Homo sapiens: one gene and its partners. The protein of the gene in region 2 purifies or fractionates together with the protein of the main gene of each other region. This does not show direct contact. Each region holds a gene or a part of one and is shown on either strand. Other genes may lie near its edges.

What was found.
Region 1: the proteins of CYTIP (region 2) and EDEM2 purify together in Homo sapiens (affinity purification with mass spectrometry; 3 studies listed by BioGRID and IntAct, with this or other methods). This does not show direct contact.
Region 3: the proteins of CYTIP (region 2) and BLK purify together in Homo sapiens (affinity purification with mass spectrometry; 2 studies listed by BioGRID and IntAct, with this or other methods). This does not show direct contact.
Region 4: the proteins of CYTIP (region 2) and CYTH3 purify together in Homo sapiens (affinity purification with mass spectrometry; 3 studies listed by BioGRID and IntAct, with this or other methods). This does not show direct contact.

What each region holds. Positions count from the first base shown.
Region 1 is NC_000020.11:35,116,316-35,123,347, reverse strand, and holds part of EDEM2 (ER degradation-enhancing alpha-mannosidase-like protein 2 isoform 1 precursor), read left to right. Parts: intron 1-4,628; coding exon 4,629-4,750; intron 4,751-6,140; exon of another isoform or gene 6,141-6,212; intron 6,213-7,032. Other genes in the region: MMP24-AS1-EDEM2 (ER degradation-enhancing alpha-mannosidase-like protein 2), read left to right, coding at 4,629-4,750. UniProt on the Homo sapiens protein: Involved in the endoplasmic reticulum-associated degradation (ERAD) pathway that targets misfolded glycoproteins for degradation in an N-glycan-dependent manner.
Region 2 is NC_000002.12:157,427,075-157,434,106, forward strand, and holds part of CYTIP (cytohesin-interacting protein), read right to left. Parts: intron 3,889-7,032; coding exon 3,786-3,888; intron 3,579-3,785; coding exon 3,485-3,578; intron 347-3,484; coding exon 277-346; intron 1-276. UniProt on the Homo sapiens protein: By its binding to cytohesin-1 (CYTH1), it modifies activation of ARFs by CYTH1 and its precise function may be to sequester CYTH1 in the cytoplasm.
Region 3 is NC_000008.11:11,560,364-11,565,108, reverse strand, and holds the end of BLK (tyrosine-protein kinase Blk), read right to left. Parts: intron 3,808-4,745; coding exon 3,657-3,807; intron 2,131-3,656; coding exon 1,999-2,130; intron 1,207-1,998; coding exon 1,001-1,206; 3' UTR 510-1,000; downstream 1-509. UniProt on the Homo sapiens protein: Non-receptor tyrosine kinase involved in B-lymphocyte development, differentiation and signaling. B-cell receptor (BCR) signaling requires a tight regulation of several protein tyrosine kinases and phosphatases, and associated coreceptors.
Region 4 is NC_000007.14:6,185,622-6,192,653, forward strand, and holds part of CYTH3 (cytohesin-3), read right to left. Parts: intron 4,911-7,032; coding exon 4,828-4,910; intron 2,101-4,827; coding exon 2,036-2,100; intron 1,496-2,035; coding exon 1,429-1,495; intron 1-1,428. UniProt on the Homo sapiens protein: Promotes guanine-nucleotide exchange on ARF1 and ARF6. Promotes the activation of ARF factors through replacement of GDP with GTP. Plays a role in the epithelial polarization.

The DNA of each region.
Region 1 (7,032 bases), on a different chromosome or scaffold from region 2:
GTGCTGGGATTACAGATGTGAGCCACTGCGACTGGCCCCATATGCTCTTTCAAATCAGGAAATGAGTGAGAAGGAAAAGGCCAAGGTTGACTCCTTTTGAGCTCCTGCCATCAGGATTTCAGAAGTGTAGGCAAGCTTCCTAAGTCCATGGGTCAGATAAATTATGCTTACGTGTATGGAATGTTAGAACTTTGGGGCGGACCTTAGGAATTACCTAGTCTCTTCCACCTCCCCATTTGCAGCTCAGAATCAAGCAAAGGACTATATTTGAGACACTCTCATAGGTTCCTTTCTAGCCCTAATGTCATTTGATTCACTTCAGGGAAGCTGAAAATTGTGAGGAGGGAAAGAAAAAGAGGGACAAAGGAAGGAAGCTTAGTCAGCACACATAGTCATCCCCCACCCCAAAACAGGCTATGAGCCCATTGTCTTAGACACTTCCCACTTTCCCACCTGAATTGCCTTTTAGCCATGGGACAGGCCTTCTGGTTATCCTGCCTTCCTCTACCCCATTTCCTTCCTCTTCTAACTCAAGTGATTATCGTAGGAGGTGTAGAGGGGACCAGGAGAGGGAATAAAGAGCAAATTCATCAACTTTTGACTCCTTAGAGGCCACTGTTATTGATGTTTCTCATGCATTTGTTCTCATGGCATGTTTTTAAAACAGGAAACTTGGTTGGGCATGGTGGCTCACGCCTGTAATCCCAGCACTTTGGGAGGCCAAGGCAGGTGGATCACCTGAAGTCAGGAGTTTGAGACCAGCCTGGCCAACATGGTGAAACCCCATCTCTACTAAAAATACAAAATTAGCTGGGCATGGTGGCGTGCACCTGTAATCTCAGCTACTGGGGAGGCTGAGACAGTAGAATCGCTTGAACCCGGGAGGTAGAAGTTGCAGTGAGCTGAGATCACGCCATTGCACTCCAGCCTGGGCAAAAAAGAGCAAAACTCCATCTCAAAAAAATAAATAAGTAAATTTTAAAAATAAGAAGCTCTGAGAAGGTATCGTATCTGGTGTTACCAACAGGTAAAGATTAGGGTTTGGAACTAAATGTAAGACATAGGCTTGCACAATCTTAGGGTTAGAGGGAACCTGAGAGGTGTTCTAATTGGAATTTTCCTAATATGGCCCTGTCAAGTGGTTATCTAGTTTTTGCTTAGTTACCACGAGTGACAAGGAGCTTGCTACTTAACAGAGGCAACCTGTTCCATTTGGGACAGGCTGGCAGGAAGGCATTCATGGAAAGTAAGACACTACTGGCCAGATGCAGTGGCTTATGCCTGTAATCCCAGCACTCTGGAAGCCTGAGGCAGGAGGATCATTTAAGCCCAGGGGTTCAAGATCAGCCTGGGCAACATAGCAAGACCTTGTCTCTATAAGAAATATAAATAAATTAGCCAAGAGTGGTGTTGCATGCCTGTAGTCCCATCCCAGCTACCTGGGAGGATCACTTGAGCCCAGGTGGTCGTAGCTGCAGTGAGCCATGATGGCGCCACTGCAATCCAGCCTGGGCAATGGAGTGAGACCCTGTCTCCAAAAAAAAAAAACATAAGGCACCGCTGTCAGGAATCCAGGAGTGCGTTAATCCAGTCATCCCTCCTACCCCAAAACAATGGCAAATAGGAGATAAGGACTACTCTTTCACTAAATTGGCCAGAGCCCTGTACTTTCGTATATGTCTCTCTGATCAGCAGTGTTGGAGCACAGAGCCTAGCCTAAAGGCCTCTGCAGGCTTTTACCTTCCTCTAAGTCCAAATCTGAACTTTGGGCTGTCTCCTTCCTCTAGAGCAGGGATTCCCCAACCCCCAGGCCGTGGACCGGTACAAGTCCATGGCCTGTTAGAAACCAGGCCACACAGCAGGAGGTGAGCTGCGTGTGAGCAAGCAAAGCTTCATCTATATTTATAGCTGCTCCTCATCGCTCACATTGCTGCCTGAGCTCCGCCTCTTGTCTTATCCGTGGTGGCATTAGACGTTCATAGGAGCACAAACCCTATTGTGAACTGCATATGTGAGGGATCTAGGTTGTGTGCTCCTTAGGAGAAGCTGATGCCTGATGATCTGTCACTGTCATCCATCAACCCCAGATAGGGCTGTCTAGTTGCAGGAAAACAAACTCAGGGCTCCCACTGACTCTACATTATGGTGGATTGTATAATTATTTCATTATATATTACAATGTAATAATAATATAAATAAAGTGCACAATAAATGTAATGCACATGAATTATCCCAAAACCATCTCCTACAAGCCCAGTTCATGGAAAAATTGTCTTCCATGAAACTGGTCCCTGGTGCCAAAACGGTTGGGGACCACTGCTCGACAGAGTTGGTCAGATGCACAGGAAAGTAAAGCAATAACTAACATGCTTAGGAGGCCCACATGTGAGGAGAGAAGCGTGATGGCTGGTCATGAGGGCACTGGCCCACCAGCTGCTAGAAGCAGAAGAGGGCTGGGTGTGGTGGCTCACGCCTGTAATCCCAGCACTTTGGGAGGCCAAGGCGGTGGATCAACTGAGGTCAGGAGTTCGAGACCAGCCTGACCAATATGGCGAAACCCTGTCTCTACTAAAAATACAAAAATTAGCCGGGCACGGTGGCATGTGCCTGTAGTCCCAGCTACTCAGGAGGCTGAGACAGGAGAATTGCTTGAACCTGGGAGGCAGAGGTTGCAGTGAGCCAAGATCATGCCATTGCACTCTAGCCTGGGTAACACAGCAAAACTCCCTCTCAAAAAAAAAAAAAAAAAAAAAAGAAGAAGCCGAAAAAAGAAGCAGAAGAGGAGGCCTCCCATGAGGGCACTGTCTTTTCTGCCTTTGAACACACAGAATGTGTTCATCTAGTAATGAATGTACCCTAGTCTGTGCCTTAGAATATGAGCAATTAGATTAGCAATTGTCTAGAGGCCTGTGAGGAGAGGGGAGGAGGAAGTAAGAGAGAACTGGGGAGATAGGCAGAGACCTTTTCTCTAAAATAAGAACTAGAGGCTGGGTGCAGTGACTCACGCCTGTTATCTCAACACTTCAGGAAGCCAAGACTGGCGGATGACTTGAGGTCAGGAGTTTGAGACCAGCCTGGCCAACATGGCGAAACCCTGTCTCCACTAAAAATACAAAAATTAGTCAGGGCTGGTGGCGCATGCCTGTAATTCCAGCTACTTGGGAGGTTGAGGCATGAGAATCCCTTGAACCCAGGAGGCAGAGTTGCAGTGAGCGGAGATCGCACCATGGCACTCCAGCCTGGGTGACAGAGTGAGACTCTGTCACAAAAAAGTAATTAACGGAATAAAATAAGAACCAGAGTTTGCAGCAATAAGCCAAAAGGGACAGAAGCACTGATCAAGCCCAGGAGGAAACAGGACAGGAGAAGGTCAGGGGGAGATGATGGTATAGAAAGGAGACAGGGGTTCTTCTGTCTCTTAGAAAAGATGGATGAAGTAGAAAAACATACTGAGCTGAGGCCACCCTTGAAGTCAACTCTACAACAGTTCTTCAGGTATTTGAAAGCAATAAACACATTTTTTTTGGATTTCCTTATCTCTAGAATAAATATTCTCATCTGGACCCACTCCTGTTGGCTAATATTCATCTTAAGGTAGAGCTCATGTCTTAACATCAAGTTCCAGTTGTGGCATAGAATTGGGCAAGACAAAACATCACTTTTTCTGGCCACAGTGAACTGATGACTACGTCTTTGTTAGATTGACGGTTTGGTGGTTTATTTTATTTTATTTTTTTAATTTTTATTTTTTGAGATAAGGTCTCACTCTTGTCATCCAGGCTGGAGTGCCGCAGTGGCTTAATCATGGCTCACTGCAGCCTCAAACTCCTGGGCTCAAGTGATCCTCCTACCTCAGCCTCCTGAGTAGCTAGGACTACAGGTGCATGCCACACCCAGCTAATCATTTTTAATTTTTGTAGAGACAAGATCTCGCCATGTTGCCCAGGCTGGTCTCAAACTCCTGGGTTCAAACGATCCTCTCACCTTGGCCTCCCAAAGTGCTGGGATTACAGGCATGAGCCACCCACCATGCCTGGCCTGCTCTTGGATATCTCAGCCTTTTCTTTTGGTCCATCCTATCTTAGAACGAGCCTTATGATGCCAAGCTCTTACTCTTCTTTTGAGTTTTAGAATTAGGTTAGACTCTGAGTGACAGGAAAAAAAATAGTAGCTTAATTAGGATAGAAATGTATTTCTCTCTCATGTTCTGGGCTTATATGGCTCGCCATGGTGTCCTTAATCCCACCTAGCTGTTAGAATAGTTAGTGTTGGCAGCCAGGCAGCCTGTGCTTAGCTAAAGTTAGGAATCCTGCTACTAAGGAGGAAGCGGGGAACAGATATTGGGAATTAGGCAACAACCTCCGCCACCTTCTCTATGCCAGAACCTGGCCACCTTTCTCTCCCTTGTGGTGGAAGTCACTGGTCAGCCTTAATGCTGGTCTCCACTGAGCTTCAAGCTTTGGGTATACTGGCTCTGAAACTCAGCACTGGGTGAGGTATCCTGTGTTCCTGCTAGTTGGGGCCTTATGGACAAGATATGGAGGGGAGTAGTCCCTCACGGCCCTAAGAGGCCCCAGGCCATCTCTGTGCAGCCACTGAGTGAGGAGGGTCTGCTTTGGACTTTGCAGAACTTATTGAAAGCGCAATGTACCTCTACCGTGCCACGGGGGATCCCACCCTCCTAGAACTCGGAAGAGATGCTGTGGAATCCATTGAAAAAATCAGCAAGGTGGAGTGCGGATTTGCAACAGTAAGTGTTTGCATGGCCCCAAGAACTGGGAAGAGTCTCCCCTTGCTGCTAAAAAGCCTCTTTAAGGGTAGAGCTTTGGGAGTTCTGACATATCAGCACTAGAAGGGACCTTGGAGATATACATAATGCTCATATTTTACAGATGGGGAGACCAAAGAACAGAGAAGCTAAGTGCCTTGCTAAAGATCTCACAGCTAGTAGAGGTAGAGCTAGAATTAGTTCCTTGGGATCTTGACCCCGGCCCTTGGCATTCCTCCCACAGTGGAGATCTTTGATCTGTTTGAATAGGTGACTTTGAAAAGGTGAGTTTAGCGAAAAGTTTTGTGAGACACTAAAATAGATTTTAAGGGGAATCCAGAGTCCCATAGCCCTATATTCAAACCTGGGACTCCTTAACAAAGCAGTCCTGCTTAGTCTCACAGATATTTCTTGAATGTCTTTCACATGCCAGGCACTCTGCTAGGCCCAAGGGTTACAGCAGTGGCCTTGCTCTCATGGAGCTTACATTTTAATGAGAAAAAAACCATGAATGTGTATCTGGTAGACAGAAGGCCAGTGTGGCTGGAGCGGAGCAAGCAAGGAGAAAAGTGGGAAGAGATAAGGTCCCAGAGGTAGGCAGGGGCTAGATCATGTAGGGTTTTGTGTAAGCCACAGGAAAGAGTTTGGGTTTTTTTTTCTACTTGGAATGTGAACCCTTGGTAGGATTTACAGCAGAGCAGTGACATGATCTGATTTGTATTTTAGAAAGATCGCTTTGGCTGCTTTGTGAAGAATAGATTGAAAGGGTCAAAGGTGAGAGCCATCTCACATCCATGCAGGAACCAAGCAGGCAAGATATAAATATGAAAGTAGAAGAAAATAGTCTGGAAGAAAATCCCCTGAAAAGCCTACAGTGTTGGGGTATGGAATTCAAAACAACAACAAAACACTTATTTTGCAAAAGTTTGTAATGTGATTATATTCTATAAGTAAAATATAGATATGTGTAGGGGAAGAGAGAAGACCTACATGTGGAAGGGAAAAAATAAACCCCTGATATGATTTGGTTTCTAATATGCTGTATTGTGTGAAAAACCAAAATGATAAGCCCACTGGGGCCTTCCTAGGAATGCTGGGCTCATTTCCATGAACATGAAGCCCTTTGGAGGTCTTCCATGGTGAATGATGGGAACAGGGGTCTGACCTTTCTCAAACAGGGCAAGGAAATAATCATCTTGATACATCAAGACCATATTTGAGTCATATTTTTAAATGTAAGATAGAGTCCACTGAGAATGTTTTGTTTAGAAGTATTACTAATTCTGAGAAGCTAAAATAAATGTTTGTAGCAAGTAATCTTAGTCATCCATGCCTGAAAACTCAGTTGAAATTCTCTAAATAAGACTCCTTACTAAAACAATGTCAATAGTTTTCATCAACAGCAGTTGAACCTAGTAAGTGTCGATACTTTGGGTCTGAGTGGAGAAAAAAAGACCCCTTATTAGTTGCTTACAAAAACTTGGTAATTGGCCAAGCGCAGTGGCTCAGGCTTGTAATCCCGGCACTTTGGGAGGCCAAGGCAGGCGGATCACGAGGTCAGGAGTTCAAGACCAGCCTGACCAACATGGTGAAACCCTGTCTCTACTAAAAATACAAAAAAAATTACCTGGGTGTGGTGGCATGTGCCTGTAGTCCCAGCTACTCTGGAGGCTGAGGCAGGAGAATTGCTTGAACCCGGGAGGCAGAGGTTGCAGTGAGCCGAGACCATGCCATTGCACTCCAGCCTGGGCAACAGAGTGAAACTCCATCTCTAAAAAAAAAAAAACTTGGTAATCATCTGAATGCCCTTCCAAGGAGGATTAGCCAAGTAAATGGTGATCCATTTTCACGATGGAATACTCTGCCATCATTAAAAGGGACGATTAGCTCTATGTTTATAGTCACAAAAAGTTGGGATAAAGGGGATAGGAGATTGTCATGTCATAGAGCAAGGTTAGCGGAGACCTTTCTGGTGAGGAAGCATTTGAGCAGAGACCTGAAGGAAGGGAGGGAACAAGCTATGAGAAAAACTGGAGGCGGAGTGCTCCAGGCTGAAAGAACCACAGATGCAAAGAGCCCGAAGCAGGAGGGTGCTGTGCTAGCTCAGGACAGAAAGGCAGCAGCTGGAGCTCTTAGAGTGGTAAGAGGTGAGGGCAGGAAGGGAGCAGGGGCCAGGTCATGACTTGCATTTTTATCCTGCATGAAATGGAGGGCTCACAGAAAGTTGTGAGTAGAGAATTGACAGGAAGACTTATGTTATACAG
Region 2 (7,032 bases):
TGCACTAATGAAGAGTTCTTCAAGTGGCATGCCTTCCTGTTGCCTTTCTGAGCCTCATAGACACACAGAAGGAGGAAGGAAGAAAGTGATTTACACTGGTTTGCAGAATTTGATATTCCTCCAAAGGTAATTGTGCGGCTCTTGATAATTCAGCAGTTTAGATTCACCACGACATTTCTTTTTCAAGGGCTATCTCAGTTCCTCAAATAGATCTTTATTTTACCACTCACACATTCAAGGATGAAAAATGTGCCTCACTGCATTAAATTAAATTACCTTTAAAACCTGCAGCTTTGCTTCAAGCTCCGTTCTTTTCAGAATCATTGTTCCATTAAGAGTCTCTATCCTGTTTTAAGGAAAAAAAAAAGAAGAGGAAGGTGGGGAGTGAGTAACATGAGTGATTCGTTTAAATAAGTACCATACTACAGAGTACTACACTTTGAGCACATACTATACTAAAAACGAAATACAAATGTTACAGTTCTCATGGCACTTCGAGTAGCTGGACCAAAGCCAAATCTTCTGATAACAGAGAAAGAAAATGGGGGAAAACTCCCCTTGAGAAGGTGGCTAAAAGAAAGGATCCTAGTTAATTTGTAAACTATAGCTTATTTTATAGAAGTCACTATGTGACAATGATGGCTGCTCTCTACTAGAATCTGTTCTTGTGGGGATGGGCTGAATGACCTCACTCATTTGGTAAATATTTATTGGGCATCTACTATGTACCAGATTCTAGAAACCATGCTGAACACAAGGGGCACAACAACAGAAATAATAGGCTCTAGGGGCTTTCACAACCATGGAATTAACATGCTACTTCTTGAAAGAGGGAGAAATCCTTTCCTCCATAGGATTCTAGGAGCCTTTACCTCTGTAAATCTCCTTATAATTTTGGTACTAGAAGAAACAGAAGTACAACTACTATGACATAATAACCTTCATATGATTCTTTATCTCAAAACATTCAGTTTACAAACTCTAATCCTAGAATTATCAACTTACCAGTGTTCTGTTCTTCCCACACCACACACATTTCTAAAAATAAAATACTTGTTCTATTCTGAGTGATTTGATTTGTTCTGTGTGTTCAAGTTAAAGGCTTTTATTTTGACTACTAAACCATCAATCTGAATATGATTTAAAAATTTCATTTGTGAATCACACACCAATTTTTAAAGTGTTGGTTCAAGTTCCTTCTTGTAATTAAGCTGTACCTCTCTATAAAGATGCAAGGAATTTTTCAAGGCATGGTAAAAGCATTAAATGTGGAGATCAGTCTTCTACTTCTAATAGCATCATGCCAGGAATAATCAGGTGGTAGCAAGCTATATACTGTCTGTTTTCTCCTTAAGGTGATCTTGACTCTCTGAGAAATAGTGGGAATCCATATGAATCTGTTTCATTGGGATTGAATGTCAGTTTGACCTGCTGAAGCAATAGATGTGTATGGGCAAAACTGCAACCATTGATTTGGCCATTTTCCTCAGTATTTGTACAGACTGTCTCCCATTTTCCCGGATTTCCAACAGTTACCTCCATCTACAACCCCTATTTACCTGTGGTCTACCCTCTTCACCCATGTGGAACATGCTTTCTGACTCTAACTACCAGCAGTTCCCCTCAGACTCTGCACGGTTCCTCTCCTTTGGATCCAGGGTTCTCTAGAGCAAAAGCACCTCATCCTTTACCCTGAACTCACAGGACCTATAGAGTTGGACCCAATTTGTTACCACCACCATCTTTCAAATCTGCTCTCACAAACACCCAAAGCATCCTTTGAAGTTTTACACCAGAATCACTGAAAAGCATCCAGCAGATTTTCTACTGGCAGCTTCCAAGGAGCAGCTGTAGCTGAAAAGGACAGATCCTGGCATCCAGAGCAGGTGGTCAAACCCCAGCCCTATCACTTACCAGTTATGTGACCTTAACTAAGCCCCCTCTAAGCTTCAGGCACTTCATCTATAAATAGGAATAAAATTAACCTCATGGGTGGCTGTGAAGAATAAATGACACAATATATGACCCACCTCAATCAGAATAAAACCCAAACTTGTTGGCATGTCCAAAGAGATCCATGGTCTGCCCCCAGGCCAACTCTCTGGCTTCATTTCTTATTATACCCTCTCTAATCCATCAAATACCAATTATACTGTCTTTTTCTCTTTCCCTTGTACATGCCAAGCCCATTGTGAGCACTCAGAGACCTCTCTCTTTGCCTGAAGTGCTCTTACGAGGAGTTCATTTGACCATCCTTCTCTTCATTTAGATCTCAACTCAAATATCGCCTCCCTAGAAAAGACCACTTTACACATCTAAGCCAAACTAGCAGCCTTCTTACCTAGCATGACAGGCCATTGCTGTTTTGCACTTTTCTCATAGTAGTTATCAATAACTGAAATATACACATTACTTAAATTTCAGGCTTTTCTGAGCCATTTCCTTCCATAACTATTAACGTACTAAGAGAGTCTTTATCTTCGTCTCTCCTGAGCCTATCACAGAGCTGGAAACATAGTATTTGCTCAATAAATATGATTTTAATGAATGAGCGAATTTCATCATTTAACTATCCTAATAAGATTTTATTAGGTGCTAGTATTGTTATGGTAGAAAAATCAGTCAAACCTCTAATTGGGAAAGCCAGTGTTCTATTAAGAAGTTTGGGGCCAGGGGCGGTGGCTCATGCCTGTAATCCCAGCACTTTGGGAGGCGGAGGCGGGTGGATCATGAGGTCAGGAGATTGAGACCATCCTGGCTAACACGATGAAACCCCGTCTCTACTAAAAATACAAAAAATTAGCCGGGCATGGTGGTGGGCGCCTGTAGTCCCAGCTACTAGGGAGGCTGAGGCAGGAGAATGGCGTGAACCTGGGAGGCAGAGCTTGCAGTGAGCCAAGATCGCGCCACTGCACTCCATCCAGGGCGACAGAGCGAGACTCCGTCTCAAAAAAAAAAAAAAAAAAAAGAAGTTTGGAACATTTGGAACATGTGGTGTGAGTATGTGTGTTTCAGGGTGGGGAGGGTTGAACAGACTATTCTTCCTTCCAAATGGAACACTAGAAGAGAAAAACAGGTGGCTTGTCACATAAGAGGAAAAACTCAGCCCTTCTGACCTTTGATTTGTTTTAGCTACAGGATTATATCAACCATGAAAATTGGATCAGTTCTTCCCAGTTTAAAGAGAATGTGTGCCAGTTTAATTGAATTTGACATTAAAAAAATACATTTGTAAAGGCCATCCTTCCCACACAGACGTTTGGGCTATTGATGTCCTCTGACTTCAGATGTTGACAGTATGTTCAAGTGTGAGGAATCTTGAGAAACAAAAGGAACTGATAATGTTTGTACCCCACTCTAAAGCTCCGGTGCACTGCCTCACTCCGTCTTGTAATGCTGAACAAAAGGCCTATTTATTCACTCATCAGGCTTTATGAGAAAACATAACATTTTGAAGCCCCACGGGAACTAGACAGATAGTTACGTTAGCAGGTTTCCGGACGATCTGATCAGGTCAACGACTTGTTTGTAGGTAAAACCTTCTGTGCTCACACCATTGATATTTGCAAGGACATCACCTGGGAGATGCCAAGAAAAATGAGTGTTATGTTGGTTAGTTAAATAATCCCTCCTGACATGCAAATGAAACAAGCAGCTCCAAGTCTTAAAAACATAAAGGAGCCAAGAAAACTCAAAGCAACAAATACATCCTGACCTTCACTCTCAAAACATTTTATTTTCTTTCCATTTAAATGATTCCTAACATGAGCAAAAATTTAAGTTACCAGCTTGCAGGCCAGCACAGTGAGCTGGGCTGTCCTCCTGTATTTTGCATATCAAAGTGAACATTTCCGAGGAGCAGGCATTCTGATTCTGGGGCCTGTAAGACTGTAAAAATTAAGATGATATATAGTTACTATTTAACAACCTCAACATCTATTTGCCAAAATTTAAAATGATGTCAATTATCATTAAGCAGTATAATAGGTAAGTTCAAAGGACAAAGGATTTCCACTATAAACTAAATCAAGGTATCAATTTTGCAATTCTACCAGACAATCTGTAGCCAACTCCATTCATAAAGACATCTGTCATGAGAAAGAAAGTGAAATGAGAGTGGCTCAAGATTTTATATTTTCAAGCCCAAGATATCACCTGATGCTATCACGATTTATTTTTAAAAATTGAGTTTCTCATTTCCCAATGGGATAAAACAACGATGGCCAAGTGCAATGAGAAAAATCCCTAAGTGGTTCTCCCAAGCTAAAACACTCATTATAGGAGTATGAAATTGTACACATGCAGCAAGGAGACATGCCAACAATGATTATTTTAAATCAGAGTTCTGCACATAATGACAATCTGCCCTGCATTTATTCAAAAGTACTATAATTGACTCAATTACCTTCATTTCTGAGCACCCTCTGGTATGCCTGTCCTGAATCCTCACCGGTTCATTAGTCACCCAACTAAATTAGAAAAAGTTAAGCTTCAACTCTTGCCTCAATTAGGCACAAGTAGTTTGGTGGTGGTGGGTTTTTTTATTTTTAATTATACCAAAACACTGAATAAATGTTTGCTAGATATAGTGTCCCAATGACCTATAACAAATATAATTTTCTTTTTTTCACACATTTAAATTATGAAGTCTAGTTCCACTTAGAAGCAAAATCAGTGTTCTGAGTAGAGTACGTCTTTTAAACATCTGATTCCTAAAATTAAGCTACATTAAAGTAGTACTTCCTTGTGAAAAAATTGATGTCTGATGTTCATTCTTTCTTATTCAATAATCCCTGAGGCATCACAAGTCAGCCACATGCAAGCAACTTCTAGAAACTTGGGTCTGTTCACCTCTAAAGGACTTCTATCTAATCTATAAGGCACTTAGAATCCCCATATCTTAAAGGTAGAAGGGACTTTAAAAGATCATGCACTATGTTCCCATCTATGTCAGAAACTTCATTGACAGCTTTCCTGCCAGGGGTCTTCTCAGTATAGCCTAGACCCTTCTGGAGATGAAAGACTGATCTAGTTCATGTGGTACATGAATAAAATATACAACTGACACTCCTTTGGGAAACCACTGTTCTAACAATTCTCATTAGCAGTGAGACTCTACCCTCCATTCCCAGAGATCAAAGTAAGTACAGTGCAGTAGAAACATGTTGATTTATGTAGCTGGCACCTCCATATATGTTCACATTGGGTGTAAAATATGGTAGTTAGAAATAGAAAAAAACAGAAACCCCAAAGCTACAGAAAGTATTAATTGGATGCTTTTTTCTCTTACCCAGTCTTCTAGCTCCCATTAAGGGATCAGTGACACAATGATCACCTGCATTTCTTAGAGACACAAAGATCTCATTGTCCTTTCTCATGCCCAGTGACATTCATTCTAACACCTGTCATTTGTGGATCTTCTATTGGTAAGGCACATCACTAGGTACATTGCATGTATTATTTCATTTAAAACTCCTAAGGACCCCATAAGGCATTAGGAGGATATGAATTCAGGTGTGCATGAGTCCAAAGTCTGCATTCCTATTGGGCTGCACGATTCTGATAAGCAGCATAAAACTAGCTCCCATGGAGAACCATGGATCTGGTCTCTTCCAAAGTGTCATTCCTCTAGTAGGCCACATCCCAAACATGTACTCACACTGCATGCACAATATGGGTACATGAGGTTCTATCTGATTTTCAAAAAGTTCCCAGAAGCATGTCTCCTATTTGTTAACTGCTGCAAATCTGATGAGTACTAGGGAATAGATTATGGTGTGTATTTGACAATGGAGAGCATATACCAGAGGGAATTTACAGGAGTGTGGGTTCCTGCATCACTGAGATAACACCTACATGCTGCCATTTAGAGGTGCCATTAGTTCATGTTGATCTACAAAAGTTCAGTGGTGTTGTGGCCTGACATAGTTTTGACTCTTGCTCCACGGAGAATAAGTGTTTATGGTATGGGAGAAAAACTTAAGAAAGTAGTGACATTATTATGGCAGTATAAGAAAAATAAAGAAAGGTGAGTAGTCGTTTATCCAGTTTTCAGTAGCCACTGCTGCACATCCTTGAGGATAATTTTCCTTTAAAAAGAAGCAGTGACAAAAAGCAGTGTCTCTACAACAGAATAGGGAGTAGTTCATATGACCGGGGAGTAAGAGGGAGCACTATGCTTCTAAAACCTATAGATTTCACCAGTTACTGTGGTGAATTACAGATTCCTCCAAATTTAAAAGTACAGGAGTTAGGAAAGTAGAAGTGATCCTCTTTTCAAAGTGCCTTCTCTGTCTTCATTGCAGCTAAAGTTCCATTTTGTTTCTTTACTCATAAAACATGTTTTTCTTAGCAGTTTCCTGTTCCTAATCTTAAAATAAACACTGACTTTCCAATTGTGGGGCTGATATCACACCAGAGTTTTCTGAAAGCAGCAGTAAAGCTAAGATCTAAAATCTGATATAGAGTGTAAGAATATGATTATGCAAAACACATCCAAAAGACATGCAAACGTACTATGGAAAAAAAAAACAGAAATGCTTAAGCTACTACTGTTGCACTTAATTGGGTTAGACTTCATTTGACCTACCTCACCCATTTTACAAATGTGCTCATGAAAAAGCAGACAGCTAATAAGCAATGAAATTCTTAGGCAATTATGCTGAAACTTATAAAGACTTAAAAATTTCCTACAGCATGAGGCAATCTGCAAGTAGAGCCAAATGTTCTCAAGTGTTTCAAATAACAATTATAAAGCATTGTCATTAGGAAAAAAAGCTACAAATTGCTCATTATGTACAATATGAACTCTAGTTGCAAAACATACCAGGAGCTATCCATGAATATATGCATTCTATATACACAGATGTATAGTCTTTCGAGTGTCTCTTGAATGCCAAAGTAAATACTTAAAATCTGATACACAGTATAACAATATGATTATACAAAACACATGCAAATATATCAAGTACACATCTGTAAAATGTATTTCACTCTCTTATCTAAGACCTAGCTGATACCAACCTAGCTGAT
Region 3 (4,745 bases), on a different chromosome or scaffold from region 2:
ATCAGTGATAACAAATGCACCACCATTGCACGATGTTAGTAATAGGGGAAATGGGCGAGATATGGAGACTGTCTACTTAATTCCCACTTTTTTTTTCTGTAAACCTAACTGCTAAAAAAAAAATCGGTCTATTAAAAACAAAACAAAAACATGCCAAGTGAAGAGCCTCCATGTAGTGGGAGCCGCCGACGTTCCTCGCTTTTACGCCCCATCGTCACCCGATCCTTGTTTATGCACCTGGCCTGGGGACTCGGAGCCTCTGGAGCTGGGCTCGCGTCCTAGCCGTCCCCAAAGCGCCGGCCCACAGCGTCAGCCCCTGGCTTTTCCCCGCCCAGAGCTCCCGGCGCGGGCCCGAGCCACGGATTTATGAGGCCACAGCGCCCCCTGCGGGCCCCGCTCAACCGCCGGGAGCCCAGACCACGCGGGACTCCCTGGCTGCGCCACGCCTGCGCCCCGTGCTCGTCCTGCACGCGATGTCCAGCTTGTCACAGGTAACGACACGGAACAGCTCGAACGCTCGTGACTTTATTGCAGAAAAGCCCCGCAGTGCTGGAGCGCAGCCTAGGCTGGGGCTGCCCCTGCTGGCGTCCGCGGGACCCAGTCTGGCTTCTGTAGCGGGGCAGGGCGGGGTCCACGCAGGGCGCAGAGGCGGGGACGCGGCCAGCACGGGGGGTGCCCAGCACGGGGGCCTTACTTGATGACAGTCGCTTACCAGTCCTGAACACCTTACTGGGGCTTAGTACTCCGGATGACCGTGCGAGGTCACTGTTACAGCCCTCTACAAATGAAGCGGCACAGAGAGGCCGCGTAACTCGCCCGGGGGTGCAGTCGGTGAAGGAGTCCGTCCGGGGACCCCCTGCGAAGCTGCCTCTGCCCACTGGATTCCGGGTCTGAGAAAAGGGCACAGGCGACACCCCGCCTTCGCGGCCCGTCTGGGATGGCACGGAAGTCGGGGTCGTCCGCGCAGAGGTGGGCACGGGGCGCAGGCGGGCGCGGCCGGCTAGGGCTGCAGCTCGTACTGCCGCTCGGTGGCCGTGTAGAAGTCCTCCAGCACCGACTGCAGGAACTCGAAGGTGGGCCGCTCCTCGGGCCGGCTGCGCCAGCACTCGGCGATGACGCCGCGGTACAGCTCGGGCGGGCAGGTGTCGGGGCGCGGCATGCGGTAGCCGCGCTCCAGGTTGCGGATGACCTCGGGGTTGCTCATCCCTGCGGCAGAGGAGACCGCAAGCGGGGGTGAGGGGCTGGGGTCCTCGGTGGGTGGGGGGCCCTGAGCGTCCCGCGGGGCACAGTGGGCCCAGGCAAGGGACAGCAGTGCCCACAGTCCCAGACCACTTCTCCAGCCTCGTGCGTTGCCTGGCTGCCCGGTCTCTAAACAGCCCTTTATTTACTTTTTATTGCCTGGGGAATGCCTAGAAATGAGGCTGTAGATTTTCTCCTGAGTACGGGGCAGGTCCTCTGAAGATGGGACCCTCCCTCTCTTGATTACCTGTGACCACCAGGGGCACAGCCAAGCCCATCACTCATGGGCAGCTGCCAGGTGCACACAGCAGCAGGTGACCCGGAGCCTGCCCACCTGTGGGGGCCAAGTGGCTGGAGCCCTTCGACTGGGGCTGGGGGCTGTCGTCCACGATTCTGGCCACACAGGAAGGGGCTTTGGGGAATCCACTATGGGTGCAAAGCCAAGGTAGGCACAACCTGTCCTCAACTGAGAACAAGCCACTGGGAGTAAACTTGAGTTCGGATGTGCCCTTTGTCTTGATTTCAGTTTGAGGGACTCATTTGACCTCTGCTGGAGGAAGGAGACACAGCCCTGTGGCCCAGAGCAATAGTGATGCAGGGGGCAGAGCTCCACCCCAGATGCCATGCCTGGGTCTCCGTCTTCGCTCTGGGACTCACTCTGAAAAGAACAGGGCAGCCACAGGCACCAAGCACAGGCGACCTGCCATCAGGGCCGGCCGGGAAAGCAGGGAGCCGCGAGCTGCGGGGTGAGCCACCTACCTGGGTATGGCACCCGCCCATAAGTGACAACTTCCATCAGGAGGACTCCAAACGACCACACGTCTGCTTTGATGGTGAAGACCCCGAAGTGGATGGCTTCCGGGGCTGTCCACTTGATGGGGAACTTGGCCCCTGTGGGAAAAGCCATGCAAGCTTTGGGAGGCCACGGCCGGTGGCCCCTACCCTCCATCCTCACCCCTACCCCTGCTCCTGCTGTCCTTCCATCAAGCCCCCACTGCGGGGCCTCACAGGGCGGGGCGGCCAGGCATGGCGGGGGAGCCACTACCGCACACCAGGACACATGACCAGGTGAGTGCAGACACGACATCAGCAGCACAGAAAGACGATATGGACACCAATACCACACAGTCACCCACTTTGGTTCTTTAAAAAGAGAGCGATGGCCTCAATGGGCAGCCACCACGTTTCCACCTGGGATGGAAGGGGCCTGTTTCACCTTACAGGGGCCTTGTTTAATTTAAAAGACATGGCCTGGGCAAGCCATTTAAACCTGCGGGCGCCTCCGTTAGTCCCTTCCTGCAAAATGGAAATGGTGACACTTGTACCTCCGAGGGCCGCTATGAGGAAGAACTCACATCCGGCTGCCCTGTGAAGCACCTCAATGGCTGCAGCCCCGGCCAGCATTTGGAGCAGACCTCAGGGCTTGGCACTTCACAGCCTCCCCTGGCCTCCATTTCTCGGTCTCCCCAGCCAGCCTGAAGTTCCCGAGAGAACAAGCCATATCCTGTCTGCTTGTCATCTGACTCATAGGCTCAGCAGACACTGCTTGCTAGCTTGATAAATATATGTGACCCCTTCAGATTCTCTTGTGACGTAGATTTCCACCTCAGTTATATGCACAGAGTAAAACAGTGCTCCGTGGACACCCTAATACAGGTTGGTTTGCTGATCGCACATGAGAGCTGTGTTTCCCACAGTGTGCTCTGTGAAAGCCTAATTCCATGGAAGGTTAATAGGGACTATATAAAAATAGTATTTGGGCATGGCTTACACCTGTCATCCCAGCGCTTTGGGAGGTCAAGGCAGGCAGATCACCTAAATTCAGGAGTTCGAGACCAGCCTGGCCAACATGGTGAAACCCCATCTCTACTAAACATACAAAAATTAGCCAGGTGTAGTGGCACACGCCTGTAATCCCAACTACTTGGGAGGCTGAGGCAGAAGAATTGCTTGAACCCAGGAGGCGGAGGTTGCAGTGAGCCAAGATTGTGCCACTGCACTCCAGCCTGGGTGACAGAGACTCCATCTCAAAAAAAAAAAAAATAGTATTTGGAGCTCAAATTAGTTTGGGAGGCACTAGGTGAGGCAAACATAAACTGTTTCTTTGCTGCAGGACTTCTCAGTGCCTTTAATATGTTGATGTGCACTGGGAATCTCCAAGACAGGGAGTAGGGTGGACTGCTGTTTCTCCAAACCTACCTTATCCTAAAGCTGTTCCTCCATGGGAGGTCTCAGGGCACTACCATTCTGCTGAACACATTTGGGTAAATGAAGGAAATGCTGATCTAGAGCTGTAGAAACCGTATAGCCCTCAGGTGTCTTCCCTCAGGGCTGTGCTGGGAGAAGTTAAAGGCGGCTTTGAGGAGCTGGGAAAGATAAGGCCCTAGGTTTCCCTTGTGGTTAGGGGCTGTGCTTACCCTCTTGGGCCGTGTATTCACTGTCGATGATTCGAGCCAAGCCAAAATCAGCAATTTTGCAGCACAAGGCCTCAGACACCAGGATGTTGGCCGCCCGCAGGTCGCGGTGGATGGAATTCATGCGCTCAATGTATGCCATCCCTTCAGCAATCTGAGGGAACAGGCACATGGTGAAGGACAGCCTGGGGGCCTCCACGCCAAGACCGAGCCCACACTGTGTCCCCCGCACAGCCCCTGTGGGCTGCTGGGGAAGGAGCTGTTTCTTGGATGGAGTAGAAAGGTGACTGTGTTGCTCCTCAGCCGAATAAACTCCTCTCCTAGAAGCCCAGAACAGCAACGCAGCAACGTGGGCATCAGAGACACAGGGGCTACCTGTGCCCCTCCCCCTCCTCGTTCTCGCTCCACACAGCTGTGTCCAAGGGTCTGCAGAGATGGAAGATAGAAGAACACAGGCAGGAGAAAAGGAGAGGGAGGGAGAAGAGAAGAAATGGTAAGGAAGGAGGGGGAGGGGGAGCAGGAGGCAAGGACAGGCAGCTCTCACTGGCTGGCTGGAAGCACAGCTCCTGGAGCTGGAGGCCCTCGGGAAGTCGCTGACCTCTAGCAAGCTGCTTAACCTCCCCGAGGGGCCACAGTCCTGACATGGAACATGAGGGATGTGGTCTCCAGGGCAGGGGGTTGAGGCAAGCATTAGACGAGGTTGATTTGTGACCAAGAACCTCACCCAGCGCCTGCCCCGTGGGGGCACCCAGGGAGCACTGGCAGATCCAGGTGGACAGAGGCTGTGAAGAAGAAGAGACTTGTCTCTCCTCCCCTGATCACCAGCCTGGGCCAGGGATAGCAGCTGGTGCTACTTGGCACCTTTTAGCTGAGGAAACTAAGGCTTTATTCACCCAATCAATGGACGAAGAAACTGAGGCAGAAAGCAGAGACCCCATTTACCTCTTCAGACATGCGACTTCAAGAAGCCAGCACTAGAATTGATTCCACTTCTCCTTATGCTTGCATTTTGTTGGTTTATCTATGAATCCATCCATCTATCCATGCATCCATCCATCCATGCATCCATCCATCCACCCACCCATCCATCCA
Region 4 (7,032 bases), on a different chromosome or scaffold from region 2:
CCCGGGAGGTGGAGCTTGCGGTGGGCCGAGATCGCACCACTGCACTCCAGCCTGGGCAACAGAGTTAGACTCTGTCTCAAAAAAAAAAAAAAAAATTATCTGGGTGCAGTGGCGCATACCTGCAGTCCCAGACCTGCAAACCGTGAGCAGGAAATAACGACATGCACTTCTGTAAATATCACCTGCAACTGCACCTGCACTTATGTGAGTTTACAGATCTTAGACCTTGTACAATGGAATTCTGCAATCAGATATTTATCGAAGGAACAAATAATTAACTCATTAGCACAGAGGCTCAATGCCAGAAAAGCAAGGGGAACGTTAGAAGTACAGACCGACTGGGCCAGGCACGGTGGCTCACGCACATAATCCCAGCACTTTGGGAGGCCGAGGCGGGCGGATCATGAGGTCAGGAGATCAAGACCATCCTGGCTAACACAGTGAAACCCCATCTCTACTAAAAATACAAAAAATTAGCCGGGCGTGGTGGCGGGCGCCTGTAGTCTCAGCTACCCGGGAGGCTGAGGCAGGAGAATGGCGTGAACCCGGGAGGCGGAGCTTGCAGTGAGCCAAGATCGTGCCACTGCACTCCAGCCTGGGTGACAGAGCAAGACTCTATCTCAAAAAAAAAAAAAAAAAAAAAAGTGCAGACCGACTGAAGACCACAGGAGTGGCGTGAACCAGCTCTGCAGCGAGACCTTCCCGTGGACACGCCGTTCCTCTCCTCAACCCTGAAGACTCAGGTCTACCCTTCTTTCTCAAAACCAAAATGTCCCCCAAAAAGCTTCACAGATTCTGCCAAATCCCTTAGCTCGGTCTCAAAAACAAGCAGCTACATGTTTCAGGTTTCACGGTTTTCGAGTGTCTCCCTAGAAAATCCAACTTGAGGAAAGAGAAAGATGCTGGCTTAAATGTGGAGGATCCCTTGTTTTTTCACAGACACCTGCTTTTTAAGGTGAATGGAGGAATAAAGTCCTCTTATGTGAACCACTTAACCCACCCAGATTATAAAGTCCGTAACCTCTGGACACCAGGGTTCCACTCCCACCCCTGCTCCTTCCTAGTCACGTGATTCCCTGACCCAGGTCAAGCGGGAAGATGCGAATATGAGCCTCGACAGCAAGGGCACTGCCTGGAGCCAAGCCCGGCCTGTGCTGAGTCGTCCAAGCCGTGCCTGTGAGGCTGCTTCCTCACCCAGCAGCTCACTCTGAAAGAAAGGCCTTTCTGCCCAGGGCACCAGCCCTACAAGGCACTTCTGCTTCACCCCACTCGCGAAAAGCCCCTTTTTGATAAAAATGTGCCTTCAACTCCCAGTCTTTTATGAGGTGACAGGGCGGACCACCTCTGACCTCTGTCCAAAAGGGAAACGGCAGTTCAAATCAATTAGTCCATCTCCTGCAGGCCAGAAAAGGGAGAGCATTCTCTTACCTTTTTGGGATCCATGTTGAATTTCTTTCTTCCCATGGCTATCTGTTTGTTCCTCTGAGTCGTTTTGCTATTGGTGTGAAATAATTTAAAAATCACTCATGCTGTTTTCACAATGCAGCCCAGTCACGGCCCTCCAGTGTACTTTCCCCCGCAACAACGGGCTCAAGGAAGCGAAGCACAGGCCCTCACGGAGGGGCCCCCAGTCTCCGCAGTGGCGGCAGGGGTGGTGCAGCCACCATTGCTGTTCACATTTGATAACTTGAGACACTTCAGAAAAAGCTAATGATGCAAACCAGTGATTTTAATAAAGCACAGTTCCTTATGACGCAGGCAGGTAATTTCTGTGCGGGTCAACCCTGAAGTGCCTGTGCTTATGCCTGAACCTATAAAGGCAGATGATGACTTACAGAGGAGGCAATGGGAGGTAACATCCAGGGAAACACCCCTGGACCCCTCCACGCAGAGTAGGGGGAGAGGAGAGGAATTAACAACTCCACAGGCTCCCCACATCCCAACCACTCTCACCCCACTTTCTGCAAGTTTGACTACAGGATGGAGGTAGAAAGAAAAGAGTAAATAGCTTAAAGGTGTAGCCACAAATTGTTACCTCTCCTCTACGGAAGTTAGATTGTCGATCTCTGTCATCACCTCTGCAATTTCATATTTCAGCCTCTGTCAAAAAAGAAGAATTTCGAGGTGGGGAGTGGGTCTTAACCTTCCTCCCCTGAGACTCAGAAATTTTAGTTCTCTTGTGACAAGCTTCCCTGCGGTCTCACCGGAGCATCACAGGGATGGAAAAACCAATACTATTATCAATACAGCTAGAGCTTCATAGTCAAAGCCACCACAACTTAGGAGAACACAAAATTCTTTGCTCACTTTTCATCAGATACCAGGTTCAGAGGGGTCCACTCTGCAGATCCTAGGGTATTTGTATATAAAATCAGGCAAGCACACTGGGGGGGGAATATCACAGCTGTGAAAAGATAAAACCAAGCCAGGAGCAGTGGCTCATGCCTGTAATCCCAGCATTTTGGGAGGTTGAAGCAGAGGGATCGCTTGAGATCAGGAGTTTGAGAACAGCCTGGGCAATGTAGCAAGGCCTCATTGCTACAAAAAAGAAAAACAGAAAAATTAGCTGAGTGTGGTGGTACATGCCTGTAGTCCTAGCTACTAGAGAGGCTGAGGAGGGAGGACTGCATGAACCCACGAGTTTGAGGCTGCAGTGAGCCATGATCACACCACTGTACTCCAGTCTGGGTGACAGAGCAAGACTTGGTCTCTTTTTTTAAAAAAAACAAAAAAACAAAAAAAAAAAGCCCAGCAAAAGGAAAGCCATGAGTCCTCAGTTCGCTTAACTGCACTATTCAGCCCTGCCATGCAAACAGTTGTCACCTGCCTCCTCCTTCAACACTGCCTGTGTTCCCAGGGAGAAGCTGAGGCTCGGGTGTGTTTAGATCGGTGGTCTCAGGCTGAAGCTCAGGTGTGTTTAGGTCAGTGGTCTCAGGATCACTTGTATCACCTTGAATGAGATGAAGCACCATGGACAGAGCCCGGGGGTGAACAGAACTGACTCAGGGCACTCAGAGAAGCCAAATGCATCCAAGGGGACAGACCCCCTTTCCCTTGATGTGACCCCTACTAATGAGACTGACCTCTGGAAGCCTCCAACTTCCCTGGGCCTCAGTGTGCTCACTGATAAAATGAAGTAGTTAGAGCTAGATTACGATTCCACATTTATCCAGCAGGCTGATTACTAAGGTCCAAATAATATACATCCTTATTCTTCAACCAGAGACCAATTCTGGGTTATCTGATTTTCCCAAGAATGAAGGGTAACCTTAGAAGAAAAATTTCCATGAATTACCTTTCAAATACAAAGACATTTTTATTCAGGACCCTATTATATGCCAAGACACTCGGACTTAAAACGCAAACTCCTAGAAAGGAGCTATTGTCTGGGACAAGGCCTGTCCTTGCCGTGGCCTGTGAAGCCACATTTATTTTGGCAATGACAATGACTAGAAAGCTTCTCAAAGAAGACCTCCATGTCTGATTGACTTTCCCAAGGAAGCCCCAAACGGAAGGAGCCAGGGCCGGCCCTCTGAATCACTTCTGTAACAATCACAGGCTCTCCCACGCCGAGACGGTGGCTTTATTCACATGCTTCTCCTGTGGGACCGCCCTCTACCCCATCCTCTGAGTAAAGTACACAAGTGTGGAAGAGCCCATGTTTGTGTGCCTGTGTTTTTATTTGTCTTTACTTTTTCTTTTTTTTAGACAGGGTCTTGCTCTGTTGCCCAGTCCGCAGTACACTGGCACAATCACAGTTCACTGTAGCCTCAGCTTCTTGGGCTCAGGTGATCCTCCCACCTCAGCCTCCCGAGTATCTGGGACTACAGGTACAAAACTTAGCTGGGCATGGTGGCGTGCATTTTTTGTAGAGATGGGGTTTGACCATGTTGCCCAGGCTGGTCTTGAACTCCTGGGCTCAAGAGATCCTCCTGCCTTGGCCTCCCAAAGTGCTGGGATAACAGGTGTGAGCCGCTGTGCCCGGCCTAATGTGTCATCCTACTCCTACCACCTGGTAGGCACTTGGTACACAGCTGGAACCCAATACATGCCCACATATTCACTCAAAGGGCATCTGAGAGCCAAAAATGGAACAGGCAATGTTCTAGGTGCTAGAACATTAACATATTGGTGGCTGGGCGCAGTGGCTCACGTCTGTGATCCCAGCACTTTGGGAGGCTGAGGTGAGCGGATCACGAGGTCAGGAGATCAAGACCAATCTGCCTAACACAGTGAAACCCTGTCTCTACTAAAAATACAAAAAATTAGCTGGGTGTGGTGGTGGGTGCCTGTAATCTCAGATACTCAGGAGACTGAGGCAGGAGAATGGCGTGAACCCAGGAGGCAAAGGATGCAGTGAGCCCAGATTGTGCCACTGCACTCCAGCCTGGGCAACAGAGCGAGACTCTGTCTCAAAAAAGCAAAAAGAAAAAAACAAACAAAAAAACATATTAGTTAACGAAAGAGGGTCTCAGTGCACAATTTGACAGAGCAATGCGCTCGTGGCTTGCTGCTGCTTTAGATGATACGCTGCCTGTGGCCCTGGGTTTGCGAGCTGGCTACTGCTGACCTCAGTTCTACGATGTCTTGATTTCTACCCGGGGTCTCACTGCCTGTGTGGAGTCTTTGCTTTCCCAACTTGATAACTTTTCACTCTGTCTCTTTGTGTAGTTCTTATATGCACACACTAAACATCTTTTTTTTTTGTTATTTTTTGTTTTTGGGTTTTTTTTTTTTTTTACATTTTTGTGAGGCTACTCTTTTACTATTTTACTCAAAAGCAAAAAACAGAGTTTTGGATTTTTGGTTTTTTTTTTTTTTTTTTACCTCAATGTCATCAATAAGTTCCTTTTTTCTTCGACGAATGTCTAGAAGTTCTTCTCTCTCTTCTAATGAGAGGTCTTCAGGCACTGAAAGAAGAAAAAAATAATTAACTACTTTGGAGAACACATTGGCAACATCCAGCAAGGTTGAGGTGGGTACATGCTGCCACCCAGCAATTCCATACGCAGGTATTTATCCTAAAGAAATGCTCCCATTGAGACTGTATCTGAGACACTCATAGGAGCGCTCTTTATAACCAGAAAACAGCCTAAATATTCATCAGTAAGAACACGAATAAATTGCGGTACATTCATAAAATAGAATCCCATCCAACAAAAATATTTTTTCAGGCCAGGCACGGTGGCTCATGCCTGTAATCCCAGCACTTTAGGAGGCTGAGGTGGGTGGATCACTTGAGGTCAGGAGTTTGAGACCAGCCTGGCCAACACGGTGAAACCCCATCTCTATTAAAAATACAAAAATCAGCTGGGTGTGGTGACGCATGCCTGTAATCTCAGCTACTCGGGAGGCTGAGGCAGGAGAACTGCTTGAACCCAGGAGGCGGAGGCTGCAGTGAGGCAAAATCACATCACTGCACTCCAGCCTGGGCAACAGAGGGAGATTCTGTTTCGGGAAAAAAAAAAAATTAAAAAGAATGAGCTAAGTCTATCAATATGGATGAGTCTCACAAATAAAATGATGACTATGAAAGAAGGCTAAATTCAGGCACGGTGGCTCACGTCTCTAATCCCAGCACTTTGGGACACTGAGGCAGGAGGATCGCTTGAGCCCAGGAGTTCAAGACCAGCCTGAGCAAGATGGTGAGATCCTTTCTCTACAAAAATTAAAATAAATAAATAAATAAATCAACATAGACAGCGCCCAGGAAAAGACCACAGGCCGACGAAAATATGATTCACAGCAGAGCTGACACTCAGCTCAAAAACAGACTGGACTCTTCAATAAATATGTGTGAAAACAGTTATTTATATGGAAAAAATAAAAGCAGATTGTATGTTATCAATCACACATATTTTCAATCAATTACAAGTGGATTAAAAGTATAAATGTGAAGGGGAAACGCTACACAATTTTTAGAAGTAAATACAGGAGAATTTTTTTTATAATTTCAGGGTAGGGAAGGACTTTTTTTTTTTTTTTTTTTTTTGAGACAGAATCTGACTCTGTCACCCTGGCTGGAGTGCAGTGGCACAATCTTGTCTCACTGCATCCTCCGTCTCCTGGGTTCACTGCACTCAGCCAGGGAAGGACTTCTTAAACAAGATAGACAAAATATAAATCACAAAGGAAAATATTAATACATTTAATTATATCAAAGTTAAGAAACTAGGCCAGGCAAGGTGGCTCATGCCTGTATCCAAGCACTTTGGGAGGCCAAGGTGGGAGGATCACTTGAGGCCAGGAGTTCGAGACCAGCCTGGGCAATACAGTGGGACCCCCATCTGAACTAAAGAAAATGAAAAATAGCCAGGCATGGTGGTGCATGCCTGTGGGCCCAGTCACTTTGGGAGCCTGAGGTGGGAGGATCACTTCAGCCCAGGAGTTTGAGGCTGCAGTGAGCTATGATCATGACTGTGAGGCTGACTGTGCCACTGCACTCCAGTCTGGGCAACACAGAATCTGTGTCTCAAAAAAAAATTAATAAATAAAAACTTTATTCTCCAAAAGTTCCACACCACAGAGTGAAGAAGAGCTGAGCCAGAAACTGCCAAAGAATTCGGATTCAAAATATGTAACTCCTACAAATTATATTATTGTTTTTTGTAGAGACAGGATCTCACTCTGCTGGCCAGGATCTCACTGCAGTGAAATGCTGCAATGGCTCACTGTAGCCTTGAACTCCTGGGCTCAAGCAATCCTCCCACCTCAGCCTCCCAAGTAGCTAGGATTACAGACATGCGCCACCATGTCTGGCTAATTTTTTTTTTTTTAAATTTAAAGACAGGGTCTTGCTATGTTGCCCAGGCTGGCCTTGAACACCTGGCCTGAAGCAAAACTCCTACCTTGGCCTCCTAAAGCACAGGGATTACAGATGTGAGCCACTGTGCCCAGCCACAAGTCAATTTTTTTTTTTTTTTTTTTTTGAGACAGAGTCTCGCTCTGTCGCCAGGCTGGAGTGCGGTGGCACGATCTCAGCTCACTGCAACCTCCACCTCCTGAGTTCAAGTGATTCTCCTGCCTCAGCCT